2 separate regions of the Homo sapiens genome follow, and region 1 is linked to region 2. The links come from fine-mapping of genetic effects on gene expression. A gene starts in region 2. The other region holds a variant in brackets. All regions are shown on one strand. Distances are between the middles of the regions.

What was found. PIP is the estimated chance that this variant, and not a neighbour inherited with it, causes the effect.
Region 1: its variant is fine-mapped to the expression of STAT2 in whole blood (TOPMed, PIP 0.97).

The regions. Positions count from the first base shown.
Region 1 is chr12:56,428,218-56,444,544 of GRCh38, reverse strand. It overlaps TIMELESS (timeless circadian regulator), which reads left to right. Exons shown (of 29, transcript NM_003920.5): 2 at 10,314-10,471; 3 at 10,619-10,772; 4 at 10,893-11,007; 5 at 11,102-11,164; 6 at 11,418-11,519; 7 at 12,021-12,176; 8 at 12,941-13,074; 9 at 13,577-13,664; 10 at 14,264-14,440; 11 at 15,445-15,662; 12 at 15,893-15,996; 13 at 16,140-16,309. The coding sequence starts at 10,375. Among named protein-coding and RNA genes, the nearest start is that of TIMELESS, 13 kb to the left of the region's middle. RefSeq lists an enhancer at 679-1,312. The variant A/G (reference allele first, on the strand shown) is at 7,642.
Region 2 is chr12:56,354,018-56,370,344 of GRCh38, reverse strand. STAT2 (signal transducer and activator of transcription 2) reads left to right here and starts at 10,238. Exons shown (of 24, transcript NM_005419.4): 1 at 10,238-10,287; 2 at 13,767-13,904; 3 at 14,060-14,213; 4 at 14,542-14,637; 5 at 14,813-14,902; 6 at 14,994-15,069; 7 at 15,482-15,567; 8 at 15,731-15,879. The coding sequence starts at 13,774. APOF (apolipoprotein F) reads left to right here and starts at 7,488. Exons shown (of 2, transcript NM_001638.4): 1 at 7,488-7,615; 2 at 8,156-9,777. The coding sequence starts at 7,600. The coding sequence ends at 9,120. RefSeq lists enhancers at 9,756-9,845, 9,916-10,095, 11,171-11,340, 11,172-11,371.

The sequences.
Region 1 (16,327 bases), 74 kb before region 2:
TTGAGCAACTCATAATATATGGGGATGGGGCTAGTATAAAGGGAAGGTTGGAAATAAGGAATAACCAACTAAGGGACAGGAAGTGATTAATGAGGATCACAGAGTACTTAGATTAGAAGCAAAGAACTAAGGGTGGGTGTTTGAAATATGTATGTTTTTAGGCTTGGGTGGAGAGAGTTGAGAGAGTTCATGTCTGATAACCTCAATTGTTCCTAACAGGAAGGAAGCAGATAAACCAGGTGGGAGGCAAGGAAGCAGTAGAGTGAAGGGGCTTGAGGATAATGATGAAAGTTAGGAATAGTGGTTCTTTGGGAAGAGACAATGAAGGGGACCAAGAATACAGAAATGAGGCTGGGCACGGTGGCTCATGCCTGTAATCCCAGCATTTTGGGAGGCCGAGGCAGGTGGATCACGAGGTCAGGTGTTCCAGACCAGCCTGGCCAACATGGTGAAACCATGTCTCTACTAAAAATACAAAAATTAGCCAAGCGTGGTGGCGGGCACCTGTAATCCCAGCTACTTGGGAAGCTGAGGCAAGATAATCGCTTGAACCCAGGAGGCGGAGATGCAGTGAGCCGAAATCACGCCACTGCACTCCAGCCTGTATGACAGAGCAAGACTCTGTCTCAAAAAAAAAAAAAAAAAAGAATACCGAAATGATTTGCTGGACCAGGCTGAAGGCCCTGCTCAGGTTGCAGGCTATACATGTTATCGGGGGAACCAGCCCCCAATATTTCAATGTAGGTTCTTTTCTATTTTCCCTAAGTGTCAGCTGGTCTCATAAATAAAGAGAAAGACTACAAAGAGAAGAATTTTACAGCTGGGCCTCTGTGGGTGCCATCACGTATTGGTAGGACCATGATGGCGACTTGAGCCGCAAAACCAGCAAGTTTTTATTAGGGATTTTAGAAGGGGAGGGGGGTACGAATAGGGAGTGGATCACAGAGATCACATGCTTCAAAGGGCAATAAAAGATCACAAGGCAAAAGGGCAGAGCAGGATCACAAGGCAAGGGCAAAATTAGAATTACTGATGAGGGTCCATGTCCCACTGGGCACACATTGTCTTGATAAACATCTTAACAGGAAACAGGGTTTGAGAGCAGAAAACCAGTCTGACTAGAATTCACCAGGCTGGAATTTCCCAATCCTAGTAAGCCTGAGGGCACTGCAGGAGACCAGGGCATATTTCATCCCTTATCTCAACCGCATAAGACAGATAATCCCAGAGCAGTCGTCTATAGGCCTACCCCTGGGAATGCATTCCTTCCCCAGGGTTATCAATTATTAATATTCCTTGCTGGGAAAAGAATTCAGTGATATTTCTCCTACTCACATGTCGTTTATAGGCTCCCTGCAAGAAGAAAACTATGGCTCTATTCTGCCTGACCCCCCAGGCAGTCAGACCTTATGGTATCTTTCCTTGTTCCCTGAAAATCGCTGTTGTTCTGTTCTTTCTCAGGGTGCCCTGATTTCATATTGTTCAAACACACGTTTTACAAACAATTTGTACAGTTAATGCAGTGATCACAGGGTCCTGAGATGACATACATTGTCAGTTTATGAAGATGACGGGATTAAGAGATTAAAGACAGGCATAGGAAATTATAAGAGTATTGATTGGGGAAGTGATAAATGTCCATGAAATCTTCATAATTTATGTTCACAGATTGCAGTAAAGACAGGCGTAATAAATTATGAAAGTATTAATTTGGGGAACTAATAAATGTCCATGAAATCTTCACAATTTATGTTCTTCTGCTGTGGCTTCAGCCGGTCTCTCCATTCGGGGTCCCTGACTTCCCGCAACATCATCTATCTTATATCACTATAGAGGGTCGTTTGGTTTTCTCCAGCACATCTGGGCCTAGATTTGAATTGAAGTCTAGGAAGCAGATGGTTGCATTGATCTGAGGTTATGTATGGTCTTTTGCAGGGTGAGTGCACTGAAAGGAAAAGAGATAGAGGCCACACGGGAAAATGGCCAAACTGATGTATATAGTGATACAGTAGTAGGATATGTGTGACCCTGGTTTGATCATTTTGTTTTCTAGCTCAGAAATCTTCAGTGGCTCCCTGGCTTAGGTTCTAAATCTTTGAACTGATGGACAAAGATGAGGTTTTTCCCATAAAGCTGGTTCCAGCTGCTTTTCCATTGCTTTCCTGTTGGACTCATCTATTCATAATGGCTCCCTCTTTGGTTTTGCACTGGCAGTTCTCTGCTTAAATGCCCATCCTATTCCCAGCTGCCTTAATCCTATGCAGCTTTCAAAGGCCCAGTTCTAATCATGCTTCCTCAGACAAAACCTCCTTGACCACTTTAACCTGAAAAGAGTACTAGTTTTTTAGTTTTTTTCAGTATCACGTATTTAGAGCTTGTACTGCCTTATCTTTTACATTGTTTGTTCTATATTTGTGGATTTTATTTCTGCAACTACATTTCTTTTTTTTTTTTTTTTTTTGAGACGGAGTCTCACTCTGTCGCCCAGGCTGGAGTGCAGTGGCACGATCTCAACTCACTGTAACCTCCACCTCCCTGGTTCAAGTGATTCTCCTGCCTCAGCCTCCCGAGGAGCTGGGATTACAGGCACCCGCCACCACACCTGACTAATTTTTTGTTAGTTTTAGTAGAGACGGGGTTTCATCATGTTGGCCAGACTAGTCATGAACTCCTGACTTTGTGATCCACCCGCCTTGGCTTCCCAAAGTGCTGGGATTACAGGCGTGAGCCACCGCGCCTGGCCTCTGCATCTACATTTCTTAAATTTCTTTAGCGCTACCATTGCACCTGCACGCTATCTTTTGCCAGGAAGGTTCTCCCTAAGCATTTAGTAACTGACTATAGAGTCTGACAGATGGAGAGGAAATTAATATTTGGGGCGGGGGAGGGGTTCTGTTTGTTTTGTTTATTTGTCTTTTGAGACAGGGTCTCACTCTGTTACCCAGGCTGGAGTGCAGTGGCACAATTTCAGCTCGTTGCAACTTCAACCTCCTGGGCTCAAGTGATCCTCCTGCCTTAGCCTCCTGGGTAGCTGGGACTAAAGGTGTACATCAGCATGCCCGGCTGATTTTTGTGTTTTATTTTTTGTGGAGACTGGGCTTCGCTATGTTGCCCAGGCTGGTCTCAAACTCCTGGACTCAAGTGATCCTCCCACCTCAACCTCCCAAAGTATTAGTATTACAGGCGTGAGCCACCATGTCCAGCCAGGGATTCTTACTTTGTGCTCAGCACTGGGTAGAGTGCTTAATATCACTGCTTCTCAAACTGTCTTGGTAAAGGACCAGGTAGATTTTTCCCTCAAGCTGTTGCAGATCAGTAGTGTTCTAAAAGCACTTCTGTAAAATAAAATTACTAGAAAAATAACATTTAAAAAGACATAGAGAATACAGGCTTTTTATTATTATCATCATTAGATTCAACAAACATTGGCTGGGTGCAGTGGCTCATGCCCGTAATCCCAGCACTTTGGGAGGCCGAGGTGGGTGGATCACTTGAGGCCAGGAGTTCAGCAGCCTAGGCAACATGGCGAAACCCCATCTCAACTACAAAACACAAAAAAATTAGCCTGGCATGGTGGCACAGGCCTGTAATCCCAGCTACTTGGGAGGCTGAGGCACGATAATAGTTTGAACCCGGGAGGCAGAGGTTACAGTGAGCCAAGATCACGCCACTGCATTCCAGCCTGGGTGACAGAGGGAGACCCTGTCTCAAAACAAAACTGTAAACTGCCTGTCAAATTGCCCTAAGATGTTCTAAGTGCTAATGCTTTCTTTCTGTACTTACCTTGATGCAGACTGCTAATAGTTTGTGGATTGGCAGTGGTCTGAAGACCAAGGTTTGAGTAGCATTGCTTTACATGATCTCATTTACACTTCCCTAATATCTTGTGAGGGTGGGTATTATTATTATTTCCTCAGTATACTGATAAGGAAAGAGATTTAGTTAAGCCACCTGCTCAAGTTCACCAGTTTAGTACCAGACAGAATTGGAATTCAAGTGCTAGATGCCATTTTGTTCATACTACTGGGTCTCAAAGAGGATCCTTGGAGCAGAGTTGGTTTGGGGCAGGTAGAGTGTTTTGTTTCGTCTTCAAAAAGTAAGTTTATTTGGTCGGGCGCAGTGGCTCATGCCTGGTATCCCAGCACTTTGGGAGGCCCAGGTGGGCAGATCATGAGGTCAGGAGTTTGAGACCAGCCTGGCCAATATGGTGAAACCCCATCTCTACTAAAAATACAAAAATTAGCTGGGCATGGTGGCGCGTGCCTGTAGTCCCAGCTACTTGGGAAGCTGAGGCAGAAGAGTTGCTTGAATCCAGGAGGTGGCGGTTGCAGTGAGCTGAGATCGTGCCACTGCACTCCAGCCTGGGCGACAGAGCAAGACTCTGTCTCAAAAAAAAAAAAAAAAAAAAAAAGGTTAATTTGAATTGCAAATACATTTAATATTTTATCTGTTGTTTTCTTTTGGTTCTTGCATTTTAATGCCTCCAAGTATTGATTTCAGATGCATATTGCTTCATCTGAACTGCTTGATACTTAGTTGAGTAGGAAAAGTAACTAACATCCCTTTTAAATGTCCAGTTCCATTGGCTCTGTGGTGTTTGACAAAGTTCTCACCTGGTCTATGATGAAATGTGAAAATAAAGTCAATGTAATGAATTTTTTCATGAAGTCATATTTATTAAATTTGAAGGACAGTATTTTATCCTGAGATTTTTGTCTGTAGTTTTTTTGGTGTTAAAATGGTAGAAACAGAATGCGTATAGTAATTGTGTGGAGTGTTGTTTATAACGGCTGTTTGAGATATAATTCATATACTGTAAAATTCACCCTTTTAAAGTGTACAATTCAGGCTAGGTGTGGTGGTTCACACCTGTAATCTCAGCACTTTGGGAGGCCAAGGCAGGAGGATTGCTTGAGGCCAGTCAGGAGTTTGAGACCAGTGTGGGCAACATAGGGAGGTACCAGCTCTACACAAATTTAAAAATTAGCCAGATGTGGTATTGAATGCCTGTGGTCCCAGCTGCTTGGGAGGCTGAGGTGGGAGGATTGCTTGGGCCAAGGAGTTGAGGCTATAGCGAGTCATGATTGATCTGTACTCCAACCTGGGCTGGTCAACAGAGTGAGACCCTGTCTCAAAAGAAAAAAAAAAAAAAAGAAAACCCCTGTACAATTCTGTGATTTTTAGTATATTCAGAGAGTTGTACAACCATTTCTGCCCACCTCAGCCTCCTAAAGTGCTGGGATTACAGGCGTGAGCCACTGTGCCCATATCAGCCTATTGCATTTGCCTATTCTGGACATTTCATATAAATTCCATCATACAATATATGACCTTTTGTGTTTGGCTTCTTTTTTTTTTTTTTTTTTTTTTTTTTTTTGAGAAGGAGTTTTCACTCTTGGTGCCCAAGCTGGAGTGCAGTGGCACGATTTGGGCTCACTGCTACCTCCACCTCCAGGGCTCAAGCGATTCTCCTGCCTCAGCCTCCCGAGTAGCTGGGATTACAGGCGCCCGCCACCATGCCCAGCTAATTTTTTTGTATTTTTAGTAGAGACAGGGTTTCACCATGTTGGCCAGGCTGGTCTCAACTCCTGACCTCAGGGTGATCTGCCCACCTTGGCCTCCAAAAGTGCTGGGATTACAGGTGTGAGCCACTGCACCCGGCTGTGTTTGGCTTCTTTCACTGAACATGTTTTCAAGTTTCATCTACTTCATGGCATGTATCAGTCAGTATTCCATTCCTTTTTTTTTTTTTTTTTTTTTTTTTTTTGAGACAGAGCTTTGCTCTGTCATCTAGGCTGGAGTGCGGTGGCGCAATATCAGCCCATTGCAGCCTCCACCTCCCAGGCTCAAGTAATTCTCCCACCTCAGCTTCTCTAGTAGCTAGGACCACAAGCACACACCACCACACTCGGATAATTTCATTTTTTAAATTTTTTGTAGAGACGAGGTCTCACTATATTGCCCAAACTGGTCTTAAACTCCTGGGCTCAAGTGATCCTCCCGCCTTGGCCTCCCAAAGTACTGGGATTTCAGGCGTGAGCCACTGAACCTGGCTGTGCCCTTTTTAAATATAGACTTTCAAATTTGAGTTAGCATAATTAGGAGGCAGGAGGATCACTTGAAGTCAGGAGTTCCAGAGCAGCCTGGGCAACATGGTGAAACCCTGTCTCTACCAGAAATACCAAAAAATTAGCTGGGCAAGCCAGGCACGGTGGCTCACGCCTGTAATCCCTGCACTTTGTGAGGCCAAGACGGGCAGATCACCAGAGGTCGGGAGTTTGTGACCAGCCTGACCAACATGGAGAAACCTCGTTTCTACTAAAAATACAAAATTAGCTGGGTGTTGTGGTGCATGCCTGTAATCCCAGCTACTTGGGACGCTGAGGCAGGAGAATCGCTTGAACCCGGGAGGGAGGCAGAGGTTGCAGTGAGCCAAGATCGTGCCACTGCACCCCAGGCTGGGTGACAGAGCGAAACTCCATCTCAGAAAAAAAAAAAAATGTTTATCAAGCCCAGTATTAACACTCTCGGAGCGAGAGAGCAGACTGACCTCTGCAAAATGAGATCAGCATTAGTTTGGTGTAGTTTGGGTCTTTTTATGTGTTTTTTTGGCTGCCTAATCTCTAGTCAGTGTCTGCCTTTTTGATTGATGGGTGTGTTGCTTAGTGCTTGCCTGCTGCCTCCATCCCATAATTTTAAGTACATGCATGATATGCAGTCCATGTGCATGAGCGTTGATGAGTTGATTATCATACGGGGTCATCATAAGGACACTTTTTCTCTTTGATGCATATGACTTGCCCTGAAGAGCTGCCCCTTGCTGGTTTGGTCTTGATCCTGCGGGCCATGGGGTCCTTGCTTGCTTCTCTTAGCTTACTTTTTGTTTTGGCCTGCTTAACTTCTGCCTTTTATCTTGCTTCTTGCTCACCTACCCCTTCACCTTGCTTCTGCTCTCATGTTCTTACTCATTCTGCCCTTTATCCAACTTTAAATTCCCTTTACTATTATCCTGCCTCATTTTCTGTATTCTGCTTCCTCAGTTACAGTGAGCCGTGATTGTACCACTGCACTCCTGGGTGCCAGCCTGGGTGCCTGAGTGAGACCCTGTCTCAAAAAAAAAAAAGCTATAAAATCATTTTGCAAACTTGAGTGTACTAGGAAAAGGTATTACTATTTTTGGTTTTGTACAAATGATTTCCTTTCTTTTATGAATTATTTTCTTCAGTTATATTTTCTGAAATCAGTTTACTGTTTCAAAGGGTATGACCCAGGATAATCTGTTGATTCAAAATTCGGCAAATATTTATTGCATGCTTGGCTGGGCGCAGTGGCTCAAGCATGTAATCCCAGCACTTTGGGAGGCCGAGGTGTGTGGATCACCTGAGGTCAGGAGTTCAAGACACATCTGGCCAATATGGTAAAACCCCGTCTCTACTAAAAATACAAAGTTAGCCTGGTATGGTGGCGTGCGCCTGTAATTCAAGCTACTTGGGAGGCTGAGGCAAAGAATCACTTAAACCTGGGAGGCACAGGTTGCAGTGAGCCGAGATCACGCCACTACACTCCAGCCTGGGCAACAGAGCGTGAGACTCTGTCTCAAAAAAAAAAAAAAAATTGCATGCTCGCTATATGCCAAGCTCT[A/G]TTCTAGGCACTGGAGAATGCAGCAATGAGCAAAACAAAATGAAGCCCTACAGCATGGAGCTTTCCTTTTGTTGGACTGGTTTATGATTTTTACTATATAAATCAATGATTTCTAAATGCTAGAAGAACACTAATATATGATGACATTTCCATCCGTCTGAAGTGAAATGAGAAAAATAAGGATAATGTATTCTTACTGAATTCTGACCACTGTTCGGTGTTCTAAATTCCTTTCTGAGGAGCCTGGAGAGAGCCATGTCTGCAGCCCATCCATCTTGCTAAACAGGTCACTTGGACCCAGTATGTTATGGCTTGCTCTCATAACTTGACTCTGGCATAGCATCAATCACACGATGGTTAGCAGACTTCCTTAACTAACTTACGCTAATATTAAACATTCCTTTCTACTGACTCCAACTTTTTATTTTTATTTATTTCTATTTATTTTTTGAGATGGAGTCTTGCTCTGTGGCCCAGGCTGGAGTGTGGTGGCGTGATCTCGGCCTACTGCAACCTCTGCCTCCCGGGTTAAAGCGATTCTCCTGCCTCAGCCTCCCAAGTAGCTGGGACTACAGGTACACACCACCACACCCAGCTAATTTTTGTATTTTTAGTAGAGACAGTGTTTCACCATGTTGGTCAGGCTGGTCTTGAACTCCTGACCTAAGGTGATCCACACACCTCGGCCTCCCAAAGTGCTGAGATAACAGGCATGAGTTACTACGCCCAGCCAAGACTTCTTAAATTAGTGTTTTCTTGGACTGCAGTTACTCATTGGCTAAGAATAAGTCTCTTTAAATATTTGTCAGAGTTTGGTTTTTCCATAGACAGTATGGAGTTTTTCATAGTGATTATGGATTTTAAAGGACATAGCTGAGATTATATCATATACTGTATACTTTTTCGGAGTGTTAAACAAGCTGTTTCTTTTTTTTTTTTTTTTTTAAGACGGAGTCTCGCTCTGTCGCCCAGGCTGGAGTGCAGTGGTACAATCTCTGCTCACTGCAAGCTCCACCTCTCGGGTTCACTCCATTCTCCTGCCTCAGCCTCCTGAGTAGCTGGGATTACAGGCGCCCGCCATCGCGCCTGGCTAATTTTTTGTATTTTTGGTAGAGAGGGGGTTTCACCGTGTTAGCCAGGATGGTGTCAATCTCCTGACCTCATGATCCGCCCGCCTCAGCCTCCCAAAGTGCTGGGATTACAGGCATGAGCCACCGTGCCCGGCCAACGCCCAGCTAATGTTTGTATTTTTAGTAGAAGATGGGGTTTCACCATGTTGGCAAAGTTGGTCTCGAACTCCTGACCTTAGGTGATCTGCCTGCCTTGGCCTTCCAAAGTGCTGGGATGCCACCGCACCTGGCCTACAAAAATTTTTTAAAAGGCCAGGCATGATGGCACATGCCCAGAGTCATAGCTACTCAGGAGGCTGAGGCAGGAGGACTGCTTGAGCCCAGGAATTTGAGGTTACAATGAGCTGTGATCATGCCACTGTACTCCAGCCTGGGCAACAGAGTGAAACCCTGTTTCTCTTTTTTTTTTTTTTTTAAAAGAAGATGATTCTTTGGGAGATAGTGATAGGGAATGTACCAGTTTCTATTCACTCCATTTCCTCACCTGTTCTGTTAGATGCTGATTTCTACTGAAATTACCAAGGTTTAAGAGTAACTTTGGAGAGGAGAGTGAAGGACCTTTCTCTACACATTCGCAGTGTCTCAGAAGCCTCAGGGCTCCTGAGATGTATTAGATCCTTGGTGGAATCACTGTATGGCCAGAGCTCGGTTTTTTTAATTCCTGTGGTACATCAGAGCTGTGTCTGCCTGGAAGAGCCACAGAAAGTGGAGGGTGACAGGGTTGAGCAATTTATTTTTTCCAGAGACTCTGTAGACCAGGCTGGAGTGTAGTGGTGCAATCACAGCTCACTGCAACCTCAAACACCTAGGCGCAAGTAGTCCTCTCATCTCAGCCGGCCTCCCGAGTAGGTAGGAGTGCAGGTGTGTGCCACAACGGTTGGCTTTTTGTACAGATGGGGTCTCACAATGTTGCCCAGGCTAATCTTGAACACTGGGGCAAATGATCATCATGTCTTGGCCTCCTAAAATGCTGAGATTATAGGCATGAGCCACTGTGCCCAGCCAGGGTCTAACAATTTTATTTATTTATTTATTTTGAGACAGAGTCTCGCTCTGTTGCCCAGGCCAGAGTGTGGCGGCATGATCTTGGCTCACCACAACCTCTGCCTCCTGGGTTCAAGCCACTCTCCTGCCTCAGCCTTCCGAGTAGCTGGGATTATAGGCATGCGCCACCACGCCCGGCTAATTTTGTATTTTTAGTAGGGACAGGGTTTCTCCATGTTGGTCAGGCTGGTCTCGAACTCCCAACCTCAGGTGATCTGCCTGCCTTGGCCTCCCAAAGTGCTGGGATTACAGACGTGAGCCACCGCGCCTGGCCAGGGTAGGTGCTTAATTCATAGGCTGGAGCCTCTTTGGTTTTGATCAGGTAGAAGCCATTATTTAAAACTTTCTCTGGGGCTGAGAGCAGAACTTTTGGTTGTGACAAAAGTCAAACATTTGAGGATCTTGTTCAGAATATTCTGAGCATTAGGGCCTCGTCCTGTTCCTATCTTCTTTTCATGGAGAGGAACTTACATTTTTTATCTTTCTCTATTTCTCCAGGCCTCATCATTTCTGTCTCCTGTTTCTCCACTTCCTTCTCTGTTGGTTGGTCCACTGATGTATGGACTTGCACATGATGAACTGTGAACTTCTAGCCACATGTAGTGCCCTTGGGTACTTGGAGGGAGACACTTACCATAAGGAACCAGATTGCTTAGGTGAGTACCTTTTTGATGAAACAGGAAAAAAATTGGCTTGAATTAAGGAGGTCTGTTGAATTCCTCAAACCATGGGTGTGAAAAGATGTGGGTCTGGATGGAGCTTCTTCCAAGGTTCCACATGCATGTTTTGTTCTGTCTCTGAAGAGAGCGTGAAGGATCTGATCCGCTATTTGAGGCATGAGGATGAGACACGAGATGTGCGGCAGCAGCTGGGGGCAGCCCAGATCCTACAGAGCGACCTTCTGCCCATCCTCACCCAGCACCACCAGGACAAGCCTCTCTTTGATGCTGTTATCAGGTTGCCTCCCTAGCTTTTAAACTTTTGCCACCTGCCAGGCTTTGGTGTTTGAGCTGATAGGTTTGGCGTTTGAGCTGGTAAAGAAACTTAACAACTTCTCCCTCCTTCATTGTCTCCCAGACTGATGGTGAACTTGACACAACCAGCCTTGCTCTGTTTTGGCAATCTGCCTAAGGAGCCCAGCTTTCGGCACCATTTTTTGCAGGTGCTAACTTATTTGCAGGCCTACAAAGAGGTGAGGATTTCCTTTGGAGTCCCTGGGGTGGAATATGGGGCAGTGGTGAAGAAGTGGATGACTGCTACTTAAGATCAGGTTCCCTATTTCACAGGCCTTTGCCAGTGAGAAGGCTTTTGGAGTCCTCAGTGAAACCTTGTATGAGCTGCTGCAGCTGGTGAGTGAGTCTTCACCTTACAGGATACCATGGGACAGCATTTTGCACCTTCTCCGGGCAGAGGAGGAGATGCTGAGATATGGTCCCAGTCCTTGGGGATGTGGTAGTCCGATCCATAGTCTCTGGCTGCCTCAGTACTGTTTGAACTCTTTCTTTTTAATCCTGCTTCTCTTCTATGCCTGGGTCTTCCAGCCAGAGTACATACTGCCTGCCTTCCACAGGGAGTCTCTTCCTCTTACTCTCTTCTGGTTAGGGCTGGGAGGAACGGCAGGAGGAAGACAACTTGCTGATTGAACGGATCCTACTGCTGGTCAGAAATATTCTCCATGTCCCAGCTGACCTTGATCAGGAGAAGGTGAGGGTCTTGGGTGTTCTGTGTTCTTGTGCATGGTTAGGTTGAGCTGCCTTTTTTTTTTTTTTTTTTTTTGAGACGGAGTCTCTCTCTGTCGCCAGGCTGGAGTGCAGTGGTGCGATCTCAGCTCACTGCAAGCTCTGTCTCCTGGGTTCACGCCATTCTCCTGCCTCAGCCTCTGCCTCCTGAGTAGCTGGGACTACAGGTGCCCGCCACCATGCCTGGCTAATTTTTTTTTTTGTATTTTTAGTAGAGACAGGGTTTCACCATGTTAGCTAAGATGGCCTCGATCTCCTGACCTTGTGATCCACCCACTTTGGCCTCCCAAAGTGCTGGGATTACAGGCGTGAGCCACCGCGCCCGGCCAAGCTGCCCTTTTTGGGCTATTCTGTCCTCTGACAAGTCTGGGAGAGGAGGCTTGGTCAAAGAATGAGTTGGAGAGCTTCAAGGCAGGGCAGTGGGATTGAATGAGCTTCCTTTCTACCCTCACCACTCACTGCTCAGAAGATTGATGATGACGCCAGTGCCCATGACCAGCTCCTCTGGGCGATTCACCTCAGCGGCCTGGATGACCTGCTCCTCTTTCTGGCCAGCTCGTCTGCTGAGGAGCAATGGAGCCTACATGTGCTAGAGATTGTCTCCCTTATGTTTCGTGACCAGGTGAGACCCTGGCCTATTGCCCGAGTCCCCTCCGCCCATGTACTTTTCTGCTGTACAGCCAGAATTGCTCTTGTGATAATGGCTGCATTATCTGGGGAAGGCAGGCGACAGCAGGAGTAGCCATGTCTTGAGTTCAGTAGTACCCCCTTATTCATGGTTTTCTTTCCTTGATTTCAGTTACTCACAGTCAACCATGGTCTGAAAATATTAAGTGGAAAATTTCAGAAATAAACATTTTAGAAGTTTTAAACTTGTACATTGTTCTGAGTAGTGTGATGAAATCTTTTGTCCCTGTTTGTCCTAAACAAGATGTGAATCATCCCTCTGCCCAGCATATCCACAGTGTATACCCGCCTGTTAGTCATGTACTAGCCATCTTAGTTATCAAATTGAAAAAACATAATAGAATATGTGTATGTGCGTATATATATATGTATACATGTTCTGTTTTCTGATAACTATATATATAGCACATATATACATTCTATAAAACATAGAACGTACATGTTCTATGTATATGTGTATACACATACAAATATATATATGTATATATGAATATATACATATATATATTTCAGTACTGTCTGCAGTTTCAGGCATCCAGTGGGTGTCTTAGAACATTTCCCCCTCAGATAAGGGAGAACGACAGCACAATGCCCCATTAATGGGGTTCTATTTTGTTCACTCTTTGCATCCCCAGTAGGCGTGAACTCAGGATAAGGAATGACTGTCCTCCTGATTCTTCCCTCTTTGTTCCAATCTAGAACCCCGAGCAGCTGGCGGGAGTAGGGCAGGGACGCTTAGCTCAGGAGCGGAGTGCAGATTTTGCAGAACTGGAGGTGTTGCGCCAGCGAGAGATGGCAGAAAAGAAGACTCGAGCCCTCCAGCGAGGCAACAGGTGAGTGACAGAGAGGCAGGTTCTTTTTCCTACATCATGGAATGCTGAGGGCATAGAAGGCAAATTCTAAGGTGGGGTGATTGAACAACATTTTAGTGTTTTTTTTTTTTTTTTTTGAGACAGAATTTTGCTCTTGTCGCCCAGGCTGGAGTGCACTGGCACGATCTCTGCTCACTGCAACCTCTGTCTCCTGGGTTCAAGCGATTCTCCTGCCTCAGCCTCCCCAGTAGCTGGGACTACAGGCGCATGCCACCATGCCAGGCTAATTTTTGTATTTTTAGTAGAGACAGGGTTTCACCATGTTGGCCAGGCTGGTCTCAAACTCCCGACCTCAGGTGATCCGCCTGCCTCAGCCTCCCAAAGTGCTGGGATTATAGGCGTGAGCCACCGTGCCCGACCAACATTTTGTAGTTTTAACTTGCTCCAATGTGCCGATGATAGAGAATGGAGATAAAGTTTCCAGAGAACTGAAAAATCACCTTGGACCTTTTTGTTTCTGCAGGCATTCTCGATTTGGGGGCTCCTATATTGTCCAGGGGTTGAAATCCATTGGGGAGAGGGACCTCATCTTTCACAAAGGCCTTCACAACGTGAGTATTCTTACATCTGGAGTGGGAACATAGTGGAGTTGCATAGCTTAAGCAGGGTAATCATCTTAAGAGTTCTTGGCTGTGCCTGGTGGCTCACACTTGTGGTCCCAGCACTTTGGGAGGCTGAGGCAGGAGGATTGCTTGAGCCCAGAAGTTCAAGATCAGACTGGGCAACATGGCAAGACCCTGTCTCTAAAAAAAAAATTAAATTAAAGGTTGGGTACAATGGCTCATGCCTGTAATCTTAACACTTTGAGAAGCTAAGGAAGGAGAATTGCTTGAGCCCAGGAGTTCGAGACCAGCCTGGGCAACATGGCAAAACCCTGTCCCTACAACAAGTGAAAAATACTAACTGAGCATGGTGGCACCCGCCTGTGGTCCTGACTACTCGGGAGGCTGAGGTGGGAGGATTCCTTGAGCCCAGGAGTTCAAGGCTCCAGTGTGCTATGATTGCATCATTACACTCCAGCCTGGGTGACAGAGCAAGTTCTTGTCTCAAAAGAAAAACAAAAATTAGTTTCTTCTGAGAAAATTGACGAGAGCTGCAAGGGGAAAGTGGTATTTAGGAGTAATTCTAATCCCCCAACCGACACACCCAGCTACGAAACTACAGTTCAGATTTGGGAAAGCAGCCGAAAAAGGTGCCTAAACGTCGCCAGGCCGCCCGAGAGCTGTCCATTCAGCGCCGTTCTGCCCTCAATGTGAGGCTCTTCCTCAGAGACTTCTGCTCTGAGTTCCTGGAGAACTGTTACAACCGGCTCATGGGATCAGTAAAGGTGAGAACCTGTGAAGGATATGGAGATAATCAGGAATGGAATAGACAGGTGATGATGCAGCTGTTGGTGGGTAAGAAGTGGGGAGGAGCTCGGGGAGGCTGCCCCTGGAATGTGGACTCGTAGGTGGGAAGGATATACAGTTAGGATGTCCCTGAGAGATAGTGAAAATGCCAGGAACGAGTGGGCTCCTGGCATGACAAAAGAGGCTCTGGAAAAATTGCCTCAGAGGGAGAGGAAAGGGAGAACAGGAGAGAGTTGGAAATTGTGGATCCTAGAGTATTATAGCGGTGTCCCGGCGTGGTGGCTCACACCTGTAATCCCAGCGCTTTGAGAGGCTGAGGCAGTGGATCACTTGAGGTCAGGAGTTCAAGACCAACCTGGCCAATATGGTGAAACCGTATCTCTACTAAAAAAAAAAATACAAAAAAAAAAAAAAATTAGCCGGCATGGTGGTGTGCATTTGTAGTCCCAGTTACTCAGGAGCCTGAGGCAGGATAATCACTTGAACCTGGGAGGCAGAGGTTGCAGTGAGCCGAGATCAGACCAGTGCACTCCAGCCTCATCATGACAGTGCAAGACTGTCAAAAAAAAAAAAAAAAAAAAAAAAGACCAGGCGCAGTGGCTCACGCCTGTAATACCAGCACTTTGGGAGTCCAAGGCAGGTGGATCACCTGAGGTCAGGAGTTTGAGACCAGCCTGCAACATGGTGAAACCCCATCTCTACTGAAAATACAAAAAATTAACTGGGCGTGGTGGCGGGCACCTATAATCCCAGCTACCCAGGAGGCTGAGGCAGGAGAATCGCTTGAACCCAGGAGGTGGAAGTTGCGGTGAGCCGAGATCATGCCATTGCACTCCAGCCTGGGCAATAGAGTGAGACTCCGCCTCAAAAAAAAAAAAATTATGACGGTGTCCAGCATCCATTCCATCATCATAGGACAGGAAGGAAGAAGTTGGAAGCCCTGGAGTCATGGTGATCTTTTTTTTTCTTTTTTAAATGTCAGGATCACCTGCTTCGGGAGAAAGCTCAGCAGCATGATGAGACCTATTATATGTGGGCCTTGGCTTTCTTCATGGCCTTCAACCGAGCTGCCTCCTTCCGGCCAGGCCTGGTTTCTGAGACCCTCAGTGTCCGTACCTTCCACTTCATTGAGCAGAACCTCACCAACTACTATGAGATGATGCTGACTGACCGCAAGGAAGCTGCCTCCTGGGCACGCCGGTGAGTGGGATGGTTACTGGAGATACAGTGAGCTAGGGATCTGAATGCTTGAATTCTGGCTGGTGCTTTTTTCCTGATTCAGGGTTCAGGTGATCAGTCTGGGGAGCAAGGACTGGCTGGGAAATTTAGTTTGGGTGGCACATTTTTTTTTTTCGCTGTGGGAAGTTGCTGTTTCCATGGGCCATTGCCCTAAGCTGTCCTCCATTTCACCGTTTCCCGTCAACTCTCAGGATGCACTTGGCTCTGAAGGCCTATCAGGAGCTGCTGGCAACAGTGAATGAGATGGACATATCTCCAGATGAGGCTGTGAGGGAGAGCAGCCGCATCATCAAGAGTGAGGCCCTGGCCTGGTCCCCGATCCCAGCCTGTCCCATCTCGTGATGAGAATCTCATTCTTCCCAGTCCCAGCTTCATCCATCTCTCCTTTTCAAGCTTTCCAGAATAGCCCTTCCATCCCTTTCTCTTCCCCATTCCTAGACAATATTTTCTATGTGATGGAGTACCGAGAACTATTCCTGGCACTTTTTCGAAAGTTTGATGAGAGATGCCAGCCCCGCTCTTTCCTTCGTGACCTGGTGGAGACCACCCACCTCTTCCTCAAAATGTTGGAGCGATTCTGTCGGAGCCGTGGGAACCTGGTGGTGCAGGTACTGGGCAGCCCCACA
Region 2 (16,327 bases):
TCCCAAAGTGCTGGGATTACAGGCATGAGCCACCTTGCCGGGCCTATTTTTAATTTTTTCACAAGTATTTGTGCCTAAAGGTATTCTCTGTTTTATTTATCTCTTCTCTAATCTCTATTATTTCCTTCCTTATAATAGTTTTGGGTTTAACTCATTCTTTAATCTTCTTTAGTCTCCTTTAATCTCTTTTAGTAATGTTTTGTAGTTTTCTTTTCTTTTAAAAAAAAACCTTTTTATTATGGAAAATTTCAAATATATAAAAAAGTAGAGAAAATAGTCTATTAAACACCTATTTCTCATCACCTAATTCCAAGAATTATCAATTCATAGTCATATACTCCACATTTTCTCACCTCCACCATTTTCAAGCAAATAATATATTTTCATCCATAAGTATTTCAGTATGAATCTCTAAATGATGAGAGCTCTTTTTTTTCTTTGACTTTTTTTTTTTAATACTTTAAGTTTTAGGGTACATGTGCACAACGTGCAGGTTTTTTACATATGTATACATATGTCATCTTGGTGTGCTGCACCCATTAACTCATCATTTAACATTAGCTATATCTCCTAATGCTATCCCTCCCCCTCCCCCCACCCATGTAGTTTTCAATGTACAAGTTTTACACTTATAGCTGCTATTATAAATGCAATTTTCTTAACTTCATTTTCAAATTATTCATTGCACATATATAGAGATATCATCGATTTTCGTGTATTGATAGTGTATCCTGCAACTTAGCTGAACCCATTTATTAGTACTTATTTTGTGTGTGTGTGTCTATGTGTGTGTAAGTTTGAGTTTTTTTAATATGCAACATCATGCTACCCACTAATATAGGTTGTTTTACTTCATCCTTTCTAATCGGGTACATTTTATTTCATTGTCTTGCTTAATTACTCTGGCTGGAACCTCCAGTACAATGTTGAATAGAAGTAGCAAGAGTGAGCATCCTTGTCTTGTTTCTTCTTTTAGGAATTTTACTTGTTTATTTTAAACACTATTGTAATTGGAATTTTTTTTTTCATTTTATTTTTCTGTAGAAACAGGGTCTCACTATGTTGCCAAAGCTGGTCTCAAATTGCTACCCTCAAGCAATCGTCCCACCTCAGCCTCCCAAAGTCCAGGTGTTACAAGCTTGAGCCATGGTAACCAGCTGGAATTTTCTAAGTTAATTTTCTTTTTTTTTTTTTTGAGACAGAGTCTTGCTCTGTTGCCTAGGCTGAAGTGCAGTGGCGCGATCTTGGCTTACTGCAACCTCCGCCTCCCGGGTTCAAGCGATTCTCCTGCCTCAGCCTCCCGAGTAGCTGGGATTACAGGCGCCCACCACCACACTCAGCTAAATTTTTTTCTTTCTTTTCTTTGAGATGGAGTCTCACTCTATCACTCAGGCTGGAGTGCAGTGGCGCGATCTCGGCTCATTGCAACCTCTGCAGCCCAGGTTCAAGCGATTCTCCTGCCTTAGCCTCCTGAGTAGCTGGGATTACAGGCACACACCACCACGCCCAGCTAATTTTTGTATTTTTAGTAGAGATGGGGTTTCACCATGTTGGCCAGGGTGGTCTTGAACTCTTGACCTTGTGATCCACCCGACTCAGCATCTCAAAGTGCTGGGATTACAGGTGTGAGCCACCGCGCCTGGCCAATTTTTTGTATTTTTAGTAGAGACAGGGTTTCACTGTGTTAGCCAGGATGGTCTTGATCTCCTGACCTCGTGATCCACCCACCTTGGCCTCCCAAAGTGCTAGGATTACAGGTGTGAGCCACCGCACCCGGCCCTAAGTTAACATTCAATGTATGTTTTTAGACTACAGAAATAGAATTCATTTATATATTAATATTTTATCTTGTCACCTTGCTAAATTAACTTATTGGTCCTTTTAAAATTGTATTCTTTAGGATTTATGCATAAACAATCACATTGTTTCTTTTAATTTTTTATTTTTTAATTATTATTTTATTTATCTATCTATCTATCTATTTATTTATTTATTTATTTGAGACAGGGTCTCCCTCTGTCACCCAGACTGGAGTTCAGTGGTACGATCACAGCTTACTGAAGCCTCAACCTCCTGGGCACAAGTGATCCTCCTGAGAAACTGAGACTACAGGCGTGTGCCACCACAGCTGGACAGCTGAGCTGGCTAATTTTTTTTTTTTTTTTTTTTTTTTTTGCAGAAACAGGGTCTCCCCTATGCTGCCCAGGCTGGTCTTGAACTCCTGGACTTTGGCCTCCCAAAGTGTGTGAGCCACCATGCCTAGTCCATGTTGTTTTTATTTTGTATTACTTTTTTAAATTTTATTATTATTACTTTTTGAGACATGGTCTCACTCTGTCACCAAGGTTAGAGTGCAGTGGCAGAATCATAGCTCACTGTAACCTCCCCCTCTTGGGTTCAAGCAATTCTCCTGCCTCGGCCTCCCGAGTAGCTGGGGCTACAGATGCACACCACCACCCCTGGCTGTGTTTTTTATTTTTTGTAAAGATGGGGTTTCACCATGTTGGCCAGGCTGGTCTCGAACTCCTGGTCTCAAGCCCCGCCCCATGTCTTTTTTTTGTTTTTTTGTTGTTGCTGGTTTTTTTTTTTTTTTTTTTTTTTAGATAGACTCTCACTCTGTTGCCAGGCTGGAGTGCAGTGGCGAGATCTCGGCTCACTGCAATCTCTGCCTCCCGGGTTCAAGTGATTCTCCTGCCTCAGCCTCCCGAGTAGCTGGGATTACAGGTGCGCACCACCATGCCTGGCTAATTTTTTGTACTTTTAGTACAGACGGGATTTCACCATGCTGGCCATGGCTAGTCTTGAACTCCTGACCTCGTGATCTGCCCGTCTCAGCCTCCCAAAATGCTAGGATTACACGCGTGAGTCACTGCGCCCAGCCCCCATGTTGTTTTTAAGAGTCTCATGTTCTACCGACTGAGCCAGCCAGAGCTATGTTGTATTTAAATAAATATCGTTCTACATCTTCCTTTCTAGTTTTATGCCATTTATTTTTTATTCTTTCCACATTACACTGGTTAGAACTTCCAGTACAATGAGGAAAAACTGGTAAGAATGGATATTTCTGCTTTGTGATAGATCTTAGGAGACAAGGATTAAATCTTTCACTCCTTCTAGTGTTGCTACACAGAAACTATAGAGTCCTAGGAGGCTGGGTGCAGTGGCTCAGCACTCTGGGAGGCCTAGACAGGAGGATCCCTTGAGCCCAGGAGCTCGAGACCAGCCTGGCCAACATAGTGAGTTCCCTTCTCTACAAGAAAATTTTAAAAATTAGCCAGGTGTGGTGGTACGTGCCTGAAGTCCCAGATATATAGGAGTCCGAGGTGGGAGGATTGCTGGAGCTTGGGAGTTCAAGGCTGCAGTGAGCTGTGATTGTACCAACTGCACTCCAGCCTGGTATACGTGTATGTGTGTGTACGTATATTTTATCCATGTAGGTATATGTATATATATTGTCTTAGGGATTCCCCAGGGGTTTGGGGTCTAGTAATTTCAGACAGTGTTGGACTCCTTTCCACTTAGTTCTTGCTGTTTCTAAGTTGGCACTGTGTCCCTGGAGACTTACTCCTCTGCTTCTGTCTTTGCTCTTAGTTGTCAGGGGCCACTCCTGGGAACTGAAAGAACCGAAAAAAATAGAGGGAGGGACCCTGGACCCTGCCATTGGCCTAGTCCCTTTGGCCATGTGCCTGAGGTGAGTGACATCAGAGGAAACTTTAGGCCATAATGATATGTAGGAACTGGTACCATTTTTAGGAGGCATCAGATGTCTTATTTCCCTAATTTTTGGACTAATGTTACCCCTAAACCCAAGATAAAGCCTAATTCCTGGAGTTTTGGTTAGATTTGGAAAGTTACTGCTCAGCTGATGGACATGTTTTATTTGTGTTTTGCATTGGAATTAGAAAAGTGAAAAATAAACCAGGTGCAGTGGTTCATGCCTCTAATCACAGCACTTTGGGAGGCTGAGGTGGGAGGACTGCTTGAGACCAAGAGTTCAAGACCAGTCTGGGAAACATAGTGAAACCTCATCTCTACAAAAAAAAAAAAAAAAAATTTTAGCTAGGCATGGTGGTGCACACCAGTAGTCACAGCTACTTGAGAAGCTGAGGCAGGAGGATCTTTTGAACCCAGGAGTTAAACGCTGTGGTGAGCCATGATCAGGCCACTGTACTCCAGCCAGGGAGATAGAGCAATACCTGGACTGGACTCTAAAAAAGAAAAAAAAAGTTGCTCTGATTTTGTCTTATTTGTCAATCTGTCCAGTTTCCCTGGACTCCCATCCAGTATATTCTCTTTTTCAGACAAAGTCTCGCTCTGTCACCCAGTCTGGATGGTGCAGTGGTGTAATCATGGCTCACTGCAGCCTTGACCTCCCCAGGTTCAGGTGATCCTCCCACCTCAGCCTCCCCAGTAGCTGGGACTACAGGTGCATGCCACCACTCCTGGCTAATTTTTATAATTTTTGTAGAGACGGGGCTTTCGCCATGTTGCCTAGGCTGGTCTCAAACTTCTGGGCTCAAGCCATCTGCCTGCCTTGGCTTCCCAACCAATATATTCTTTTAATAAGAAAAATGGTGACCAGGCGCTGTGGCTGGCTCAAGCCTGTAATCCCAGCACTTTGGGAGGCCAAGGTGGGCAGATCACCTTAGGTCAGGGGTTCAAGATCAGCCTGGCCAACATGAAGAAACCCCGTCTCTACCAAAAATACAAAATTAGCCGGGAATGGTGGCACACGCCTGTAATCCCAGCTACTTGGGAGGCTGAGGCAGGAGAATCACTTGAACCTGGGAGGCGGAGGTTGCAGTGAGCTGAGATCGCGCCATTGCACTCCAGCCTGGTCAACAAGAGCGAAACTCCGTCTCAGAAAAAAAAAGAAAAGAAAAATGGTTTAGGGGTCCCAGAGATCACCAGCTATTCTGCCTTACCCTTTCTCCCCTCAAGAAGATACGGAGGACCTTTTCCTCAGCTCAAATATAGGTTTAGGGTAAAACCTTAGGATAGAAAAGATATGTCACTGGGTGCCGTGGCTCACGCCTGTAATCCCAACACTTTGGGAGGCCGAGGCAGGCAGATCATTCGAGGTCAGGAGTTTGAGACCAGCCTGACTGACATGGTGAAACTCCATCTCTACTAAAAATACAAAAACATTAGCTAGGCGTGGTGGCGCACACCTGTAGTCCCAGCTACTCGGGAGGCTGAGGCAAGAGAATCTCTTGAACCTGGGAAGTGGAGGTTGCAGTGAGCCAAGATCACGCCATTGCATTCCAGCCTGAGCAACAGAGTGAGACTGTCTCCAGAAAACAAAACAAAACAAAAATTTGCCAGGCATGGTGGTGCGTGCCTGTAATCCCAACTACTAGGGAGACTGAGACACAAGAATCGCTTGAACCCGGGATGTGGAGGTTGCAGTGAGCTGTGATCGTGCCACTGCACTCTACCCTGGGCAACAGAGTGAGACTGTGTCTCCAGAAAAAAAAAGGAAAAGAAAAAGAAAAAGAAAAAAAAAAAAAGATATGGGACAGGACTGCAGGGCCTAAAAGGGGAAAGGTCAGTTTGTCAGTATGGGTCAAAGGTGAGAAGGACAAAGTCTGGGCTGGGAAGAGATGCATAAATATTTGCAAATGTTTTGTCCTTCACTGTTTTGGAAGCCATCAACTTTCTGGTTTCCTTGTGATTCTGGGAAAGGGCAGATTAAAAACAGCAACAACAACAATAATAGTAATTCAGGTCATGAAGATACCAAAGCAAATGAGATGTTTGGACTGTTTTTTTCCTCTGACTTGTTTCTCCTCAAAATAGGAGGATCACCCACATCCTTTAAGAGTGAAGATGAGGTGTGCTCAGGGCAACCGAAGTTTCCAAGAGCTAAGACACTTTCTAGCTCTGGCCAGTCTTGGTGTCTCTTTGTCCTGAGCCTTTCTCCACTTCCCAACCTGAGCACTGCTTCCTTCCAGCAGGGCTGCTCTGCTGTCCCCCCATGGTCCAAGCTGTGCTGCTGCTTTGCTGTGTCCTGCTGTCCCTGGTGTCTGCCTTTCCAAGAAATGCTCAGAATGAGACTCTGACCCTCCAGCCATCTTTAACAGAGACTGGGCATCCATCAAACATGCTCTCCATTATTTGGAGAACATGGAGAGCCAGATTCCTCTCCCAGATCCCAGGATCTGCCAAGATCTCTTACACACAGCCCCCTCCCTAGCCCCTCTGCCTGAGTACCTGTCCAACTTAGCTCTGAGGGTGCCCTTGGAGGAGGTGGGCTGCCCAACTGAGGCCCATGTTCTGCAGTTTCAGATGCGAGGAAAGGATACCACTGAAACCCTCATCCGTGAGAGTCAAAAAGTTCAATGGGGAGGAAGGCAATACCAACATCATTGTGACGAATCTAGTAGTCCCTTAGGGAAGTGTGAATAAACCCAGCACCCAGCTGCCCATCCTGGGAAATGTATGGATGGTGGCAAATATACCCACTGGGGTAGCTGGCCTACCAGGTAGCTCAGATGGTGATTGAGTTTGCTGAGAAACCATCTCCCATGATGCTTGGTGTCACAGTTCAAAGTTTTGGGTGTCCACATCACCAAGAACTGCAGGTATGAGTCTTGGGAGCATATTGAAGAATTAGGCAAAAAGTTGAAGAAGCTCTCAAGATCATTTAAATTGTCCATGGACAGTGACAATATAATCTATCAAATGTTCCACAGCTATTCTGAAGTGCTTTGTGAGGAAAATGATCCAGGAATTGATCCCGGCTCATTTCAGCTATTCAATATCACATAAGTAATGAGTCTCCTTTCCCAGGACTGTATTCAAGGATGGCACACAGTAAGTAGTTAGAAATGTTGGAGACCACTTAGGACAGATGAATGCTCTTTATTTCACCTCTTCCCTTAAACACATATGTGACCAGTGTTAGCCTTGCCCCTCTCCACTTAGTAGGTGTCAGCTCCCCTCCTTTTTTTTTTTTAAGACGGAGTCTCACTCTGTCACCCAGGCTGGAGTGCAGTAGTGCGATCTTGGCTTACTGCAACCTCCACCTCCCGGGTTCAAGCAATTCTCCTGCCTCAGCCTCCTGAGTAGCTGGGACTACAGACGCCCACCACCACGCCTGGGTGTATATATATATATATATATATATATATTTTTTTTTTTTTAGTAGAGACAGGGTTTCACCATATTGGCCAGGCTGGTCTCGAACTCCTGACCTTGTGATCCGCCCGCCTTGGCCTCCCAAAGTGCTGGGATTACAGGCGTGAGCCACCATGCTCAGCCGCTAATTTAATTTTTAAAATGAAGAGAAATGAGAGTATCACAAACATCTCATCTTTCCTAATTCTGAATTTCCCTGGCTCCTATCATGAGCTTAGAGTGGGAATGTGGCAGGGACATACAGGAAATGCCAAAGAACAGGACTGTAGGCATAGAGGTTGAGTGTGTGACAAGGGGCACAAGGTTTGAGCAGCCAGTATAAATGGGCAAATATTTGCAGAGATTACATCCTTCACTGATCATAGGGGAAAGCAAATATCTCCTTTCCTCATGGGACACAGAACTAGGCAGAACAGGATCAGGAAGCGATCAAACCTACCAAGGCAGTCTCACTTCTCAATGACTGGACTGTGTGGTAATTTGGGGTCCCTATATATGGGTGGAAATAAAACAGAAGTCCCTGGTGACCTGTAAATGGGGGAGACCAAGTGGGAGCAACTGGGGTGCATTTCCTATTTCCTAGGCCTTTACCTAAAAAGAACAGAAGCTTGGGGCCAGGCGCGGTGGCTCACATCTGGAAGCCTATCACTTTGGGAGGCGGAGGTGGAAGGATCACTTGAGCCCAAAGTTCAGAACTAGGCTGGGCCAGATGGCAAAACCACGTCTCTACAAAAAATTTAAAAATTAGCTGGGCATGGTGTCACGCACCTGTAGTCCCAGCTGCTTGGGAGGCTGAGGCAGGAGGATCCCTCGAGCCCAGGAATTCAAGGCAGCAGTGATTTGTGATCCCATCACTGCACTCTAGTCTGGGCAACAGAGCAAGACCCTGTCTCTAAAAAGAAAGTACAAAAGCTTGGAAGCAGGTGATGTATGAGGTGTCCCCCTAACTGAGTCTTGGGCTCACCATCGCCCTTAGGGAAATGGTTTGTATGTTTCGGATTTCTCCCCTTTCTAGGGTACTCTGCTCCAGACATGCGTGGCCTCAGACTCATCATGATACCAGTTGAGCTGCTACTTTGCTACCTCCTGCTGCACCCTGTGGATGCCACTTCATATGGAAAGCAGACAAATGTCTTGATGCACTTTCCCTTGTCCTTGGAATCCCAGACACCCTCCTCAGACCCCTTGTCCTGCCAATTTCTGCACCCAAAGTCACTGCCTGGTTTCAGCCACATGGCCCCTCTACCCAAGTTCTTGGTAAGCCTGGCTCTAAGGAATGCCCTGGAGGAAGCTGGTTGTCAGGCTGATGTTTGGGCTCTACAGCTACAGCTCTACCGCCAGGGTGGTGTGAATGCTACACAGGTCCTCATCCAGCATCTTCGAGGGCTCCAGAAAGGCAGAAGCACAGAGAGGAACGTGTCAGTGGAAGCCCTGGCCTCTGCTCTGCAGCTGTTAGCCAGGGAGCAGCAAAGCACAGGAAGGGTCGGGCGCTCCCTCCCGACAGAGGACTGTGAGAATGAGAAGGAGCAAGCTGTGCACAATGTAGTCCAGCTGCTGCCAGGAGTGGGAACCTTCTACAACCTGGGCACAGCTTTGTATTATGCTACTCAAAACTGCCTGGGCAAGGCCAGGGAACGAGGCCGAGATGGGGCCATAGATCTGGGATATGACCTTCTGATGACCATGGCTGGGATGTCAGGGGGGCCTATGGGTCTAGCGATCAGTGCTGCACTTAAACCTGCATTAAGGTCTGGGGTTCAGCAGTTGATCCAGTATTACCAAGATCAGAAAGACGCAAACATCTCTCAGCCGGAGACCACCAAGGAGGGTTTGAGGGCCATCTCAGATGTGAGTGACTTGGAAGAAACAACTACTCTGGCTTCTTTCATATCAGAAGTAGTAAGTTCAGCTCCCTACTGGGGGTGGGCCATAATCAAGAGCTATGACTTAGATCCTGGGGCTGGGAGTCTTGAGATATAAAAGAATGTGGTAACCACAGAATTAATAACTGTACTACCCTGACAAGCTATATACATGTCTTCAAAATTTTAATCTGATTTATCCAGGAGGAAGGCTGTACAGTAAAACGTAAGAACGTAAATGTTTGGGTGTTGAAGTCACAGGGTTTGGTTTCGAATCTAGGCTCCACTTGTTAGAGCCTCGGTGATCACTGAATAGTAACTTCTTTCTTGAACTAAGATCAGTTTTGAAGTTTCTAAAGGAGATAGAATGATTTTAACCTCAATGAGTTGCCCTGTAAATTTAAAATGATACAATGAATCTAAAATGCTTATCACAGTACTTTCAATAAATAGCTATTAGCCAGGTGCGGTGGCTCACGCCTGTAATCCCAGCACTGTGAGAGGCTGAGGCGGGATGATCACCTGAGGTCAGGAGTTCAAGATCAGCCTGGGCAACATGGCGAAACCCCGTCTCTACAATAAATACAAAAAATTATCCTGGCGGAGTTATGCACGCTTGTAGTCCCAACTACCTGGGAGGCTGAGGCGGGAGAATCACCTGAGCCTGGGAGGTCGAGGCTGCAGCGAGCCGAGATCGCGCCGCTGCATTCCAGCCTGGGTGACAGAGCGAGACCATGTCTCAAAAAATAAAAATAAAAAAAAATTGTTTTCATTACCTCAGCCCTCCTCTTCCTATCCCAAGGCGTCGAAATTCCGGTCCCACCCCTTCCCATGGAGCCCTTGGCGTCTCCAGGCTCCTCAAGCTAGTTTCGGTTCCGGGGCTCACGCGCGGGTTCTCGAAAATCAGCTGTTTCAGTCTTGGGCTAGTCCACTAATTGGACTCCTCCCCTCGTAGAAAGTGCCTACTTGAACTTCTCCACCAATCGCTGAAGCTGCAGGTGTGGTTTCGGCTCAGCTTGTCCCGCCCTGCGGAGGGGCGGAGTTGCGGCGGCGCCAGTGAGCTCGCAGTCTGGGAAGGGCTTGACTGAATGGCAGCCAGTGTCGGGGTGGCGGCTGGGAATGGGGGCCGCTCCGGACTTCCGCTGCCAACTACAAGGGGGCGGGTCCGAGGGGGGTTAGCCGAAGTTGTAGGCGGGGCGCGAGGTTCTAGTACCCGAGCTCATACTAGGGACGGGAAGTCGCGACCAGAGCCATTGGAGGGCGCGGGGACTGCAACCCTAATCAGGTACGGGCCCTGAGAGGGTGTGCTGGGGTAGGGGTGGGGGTGAGAGTGAGAGTTCCTCCGAGGGAAGGGCGACTGGCCCCAGGGGTTACCCCCTGGAGAGGGTAGCTTCGGTCCCCAGATTGAAATAGGAGCTGTCGCCTGCTCGGTCCTCGATCTTCTTCTGTCCAGCCTATCTCCCTAACCCTAATGCCCCTCTCCCAAAACTGCCCTGCAGCTTCCGAGACCCGGAATCTGGCATTGTTATGTTGGTTCGGTATCTGACGTTTTTCCCTCTGCTCTGCATTATTTTTTATCTTCACCAAAAAACGATGTTCAAAGATAGATAAATCTAAAAACAAAGATAGATAAATCTATTATCCTTGTTTTGTTAAAAAGTATAAGCTACTGAAAGATGAAACGATTGCCTAAGGTCACACACAAAATTCAGTTCATTTCAGAAAAGCTTCTTGAGTGCAAAATATGTGCCTAAGAATGAGAGATAATGAGAAAAAATTGTTTCAGCCCTTAACCTCAGTGTTTGCAATCCATTTGGGGAGACCAGGTTTTTTGTTTTGTTTTCATATTTGAATCTTTGCTGACTTGCTCCTTTAATATCAGACACTTAAATCCTCAAGAATTGGGACCTCATCATTAATTTTTTTTTGGAGATGGAATCTCACTATGTTGCTCAAGCTTGGTCTCAAACTCCTGGGCTCAAGCCATCCTCTCGTCTTGTGGGCCTCACAAAGTGCTGGGATTACAGGCATGAGCCATCATGCCTGGCCACCTGATCATTTTTTTAACTTTTTTTTGGTATCATAAAAGCAATACAGATACATAGTTTTAAAAATCAAGCACTACTAAAAGAGTTAAAATGAAAATAGCCCCTGCCCAATCCCTCCCTTCCCTTGTTCCTGCTGGAGGTAGAAAGGCAGCTGATGTTATTCATGTTAGTAGAAGACTCTCCCACCCCAAGCATTTCTCTTTATTTTGTAATAAAATCATGTGACCTTTTTAGACCACAAATATGCATGAATTCTGTTCTGTTAGGCTCAGGCTGCAACAAGCATAAGTTTCAGTTTCCTAAATAGACACCAGCTGGCAGTGAGCAGGGAACAGTGGGGAGAAAGATGCATGGGACAGCCTGCTTGGTGACAGGCAAAAACCAATTTGTTGTTCTTTTGAGACAGAGTCTTGCTTTGTCACCCAGGCTGGAGTGTAGTGATGTGATCTCTGCTTACTGCAACCCCTGCCTCCTGGGTACAAGCCATTCTCCTGCCTCAGCCTCTTGAGTAGCTGGGATTACAGGCAACAATTTTAAGTGAAGTTTCAGGATCTCACAAAGTTGATAACCTATAATCATATTCAAGATTCACAGGTCATAAACGTGTCATATTCTTGGGATTGAGCCACCCATTGCACAGCATTTAGATGTCTTCTAGAATGGAGCTCCTCCTTCCTATATGGAGGGCAGTTTATATGGTGTACTTACCTGACCACCAAAAAGATTTGGCTCCTAAAAAAGCTTCAGGTGGCCGGGCATGGTGGTTCACCCCTGTAATCCCAGCACTTTGGGAGGCCAAGGTGGGCAGATCACCTGAGGTCAGAAGTTCCAGACCAGCCTGGACAATATGGTGAAACCCCATCTCTACTAAAAATACAAAAATTAGCTGGGCATGGTAGTGGGCGCCTGTAATCCCAGCTAGTCGGGAGGCTGAGGCAGGAGAATCCCTTCAACTCGGGAGGCAGAGTTTGCAGTGAGCCGAGATCGTGTCACTGCACTCCAGCCTGGGTGACAGAGCAAGACTCCATCTCAAAAAAAGAAAAAAAAAAAAAGAAAAAAAAAAGCTTCAGAGCCAGCAGGGATCATGCTGTAATAAATACTTAACATCAACACTGATCTTTAAATGCTTTAGCACAATCAAATATAAATAACAAACACACACATAAATGCAAAATAAATGAATTAGGGAGATAGATGAAATAAGATTGTGGAAATAGTAATGTTTGTTAAAGCTGGATGGTGATCCTTGTACTATTCACTCTACTCTAGTGTGTATTTGAAAATTACCATTAGGCTGGTTATGGTGGCTCATGCCTGTTAATCCCGGCATTTTGGAAGGCTGAGGCAGGCGGATTACTTGAGCTCAGGAGTTTGAGATCTGCCTGGGCAACATGGCAAAATCCCATCTCTACAAAAAATTAGCTGGCATGATGGCACACTCCTGTAGTCCCAGCTCCTTGAGGGGCTGAGGCAGAGAATGGCTTGAACCTGAGAGGTCAAAGCTGCAGTGAGCCAAGATCATGCCACTGCACTCCAGCCTGGGTGACCAAGTGAGACCCTGTCTCAAAAAAAAAAAAAAAAAAAGAAAGAAAATTCCCATTAAAGCACAAAGGCCCACTTATTGAAGCTATTAAAATACAGGTTGGGGCCGGCTGGGCACAGCGGCTCACGCCTGTAATCCCAGCACTTTGGAAGGCCGAGGTAGGCAGATCACGAGTTCAGGAGATCGAGACCATCCTGGCTAACACGGTGAAACCCCATCTCTACTAAAAATACAAAAAAAAAAATCAGCCGGGCATGGTGGCGGGAGCCTATAGTCCCAGCTACTCGGGAGGCTGAGGCAGGAGAATGGCATGAGCCCGGGAGGCGGAGCTTGCAGTGAGCCAAAATCACACCACTGCACTCCAGCCTGGGCAACAGATCGAGACTCCATCTGAAGAAAAAAAAAATACAGGTTGGGACCACAGTGGCTCATGCCTGTAATCCTAGTACTTTGGGAGTCCGAAGTAGGTGGATCACCTGAGGTCAGGAGTTTGAGACCAGCCTGGCCAACATGGCAAAACCCCATCTCTACTAAAAAATATACAAAAATTAGCTGGGCGTGGTGGTGGGTGCCTGTAATCCCAGCTACTCAGGAGGCTGAGGCAGAAGAATCACTTGAACCAGGGGGATGGTGGTTGCAATGAGCCAAGATCATGCCACTTCACTCCGGCCCAGGCAAAAGAGTGAGAGTCCATCTTAAAAAAAAAAAAAAAAAAAAAAAAAAAATACAGATTAGGCATTCCTAATCTGAAAAATTTGGCTCCAAAATGCTCCAGTGAGCATTTCCTTTGAGTGTCATGTGGGTGCTCAAAAAGTTAGATTTTGGACCATTTCAGATTTCAGAGTTTTGGATTAGGGATGCTCGACTGGTAAGTAATGCAGATATTCCAAAATCTGGACAAATCTGAAATCCAAAATGCTTGGAATAGCAGATACTCAACTGGTAGCACTCCCTGGAAGAATATGCACCAAACTGATAGCAGTGGTTACTTCTGGAGAGGAGGGGAAAGAACCAAGATTAGCAGTAGGATCAACATATATTTTAATGTTTTCTGTATTTTTATTACTTGTATAATTTAAACATTTTAAATTAGTAATAATGAACAATCATGAAACTATGGATGATTTAGTCCAGCAAAATATCCAATTGGGAACCCTCATCCTTCTGACGCAGAGCCCAAATGGCGCAGTGGGAAATGCTGCAGAATCTTGACAGCCCCTTTCAGGATCAGCTGCACCAGCTTTACTCGCACAGCCTCCTGCCTGTGGACATTCGACAGTACTTGGCTGTCTGGATTGAAGACCAGAACTGGTGAGGCCTTCAGGAAGTTGGGGGAATGAAAAAGGTGGTTCCTTACTTCTGGGCCCCCGGGATCCTGGAATCATTAATGGCAGGAAGGGGTTGGAAAGCCTCAGGACTACAGTAACACTGCAGAGACACTAATACTTCTTATTCCTGGTGCCCAGGCAGGAAGCTGCACTTGGGAGTGATGATTCCAAGGCTACCATGCTATTCTTCCACTTCTTGGATCAGCTGAACTATGAGTGTGGCCGTTGCAGCCAGGACCCAGAGTCCTTGTTGCTGCAGCACAATTTGCGGAAATTCTGCCGGGACATTCAGGTACTTGGAACGGTTGGGAGTGATGGGGTAGCACTGGGAGCTGAGCATAGAGGAGTAAGGTTTGGAGAATAGAATAGTACCTGGAGGTGGAAAGGGAGACGGGAACAAATGTGGGGAAAGGAGGACAGAGTCTGGACTTGGGGAATCACTAGCAGAGAGAAGGGTTGCATATACGTGACACTGTTGGGAGGATGCTATGGTGAAAAGACAAAGGGCTAAGAACCCCGAAGGAGGAGGAAATACTGTGGACATTGGTGGGGAGGGTCTAGGGCAATAGGTCATTGAGAGTGGTTGAATTGGATCAATCCTTTCTGTTTACCTATTCTAGCCCTTTTCCCAGGATCCTACCCAGTTGGCTGAGATGATCTTTAACCTCCTTCTGGAAGAAAAAAGAATTTTGATCCAGGCTCAGAGGGCCCAATTGGTGAGGACAATTCAGTGGTAATGTTGGAAACTCCTGAAGTAGAGAGGAACCATGGAAAGGACTCAGGGAGTTGTCTCAGAACAGGATCCCCCCGACATCCTGTGGTATAATTTCAGGCCTGAACTTAAGGCATGAAAGGCCAGAGTTAAAACGTGCTCAGAGCCTCTTTTTTCAGGAACAAGGAGAGCCAGTTCTCGAAACACCTGTGGAGAGCCAGCAACATGAGATTGAATCCCGGATCCTGGATTTAAGGGCTATGATGGAGGTTAGTAGATGTGGTAGGAGTTAGGGTTGACAGCGTTCAGCCTAACACCTCCCTGAGAAGCAGCCTCATCGGGGTCCTCTCCCCTCTGCAGAAGCTGGTAAAATCCATCAGCCAACTGAAAGACCAGCAGGATGTCTTCTGCTTCCGATATAAGATCCAGGCCAAAGGTAGGAAGCACATTGAGGGGCTGGAGAAAGATAAGTGCCTGCTGAGAAGCCGGAGCTGGAAGTGAACAGGAGAAAGCTCCGATGAGCAGTAGTCACTGTCAGACACACCCCACTGACTACAGTCCTGCTGCCGTGCAAAGCTGGAAGTGCTTTGTGGAGGCTGAGCTGGAGGTGCAGCTGAGAGACAGTAAATGTTGAGGAAATGCATGGAAAACTAACAGTGTTTTATTTGAGGGGGTGTCTGGTCCAAGCATGACCATTCAGAATTTGCCTGAGGGTCCCACAGGTGCCTGTGCTTTGCTTGGTTTCCCTTTCTTCCTCCACAAAATTCCTCCTTCCTGACTCTGACTGAGACCCCAGTCAGGAAGGAGAGGAAAGAACCCCTGGACTGACTCCTGTTCCCACCATCCAGGGAAGACACCCTCTCTGGACCCCCATCAGACCAAAGAGCAGAAGATTCTGCAGGAAACTCTCAATGAACTGGACAAAAGGAGAAAGGTGGGAGACAGAGGACAGAACATGTGGGCAACAAGGACCTGGAAAAATGAGGGATGTGGGGACCCTGGTCCTCTAGCGCTGGCTTCTTTGTTTCTTCATCCCCAGTTGGGTGGTGGAGGGTGAAAGGGAGAGATGCTCAACACTCACATTATCTCTTTCCCAGGAGGTGCTGGATGCCTCCAAAGCACTGCTAGGCCGATTAACTACCCTAATCGAGCTACTGCTGCCAAAGTTGGAGGAGTGGAAGGCCCAGCAGCAAAAAGCCTGCATCAGAGCTCCCATTGACCACGGGTTGGAACAGCTGGAGACATGGTGAGAGGTACCACCCCAACCCTCGTCCTCGCCATGCGCTGTGATTTGTAAGTTGCAGTGCCCTGCATATAGCAAGAGATACTGTTCTCTATTTGTCTCTGCTCCCCAGAATGAGCCCTGCTCCCTGCTGACTGCAGCTCTATTCTGCTCCTCATCCTCACCACGCAGGGAGCCCAGAGCCCAGTCTCCTTCAGGGAAAGGAATGAATTAACCCACAATCTGGTTTTTCCTTCTTTTTTAATCACCCAGAAATATATATATATGTATTTTTTTTTTTACTGCAACGAATACAATGACAAGAAAGGAAGGAAGGAAGGAGGAAGAGAAAATTACCTATTACCTAGCTTATTAAACAAAAATGGAATCATATTGTCCATACTATTTTGAAATCCATGGGGTTTTTTTTAAGCTTAACAGTATTTTTTATATATATATATATATATATATA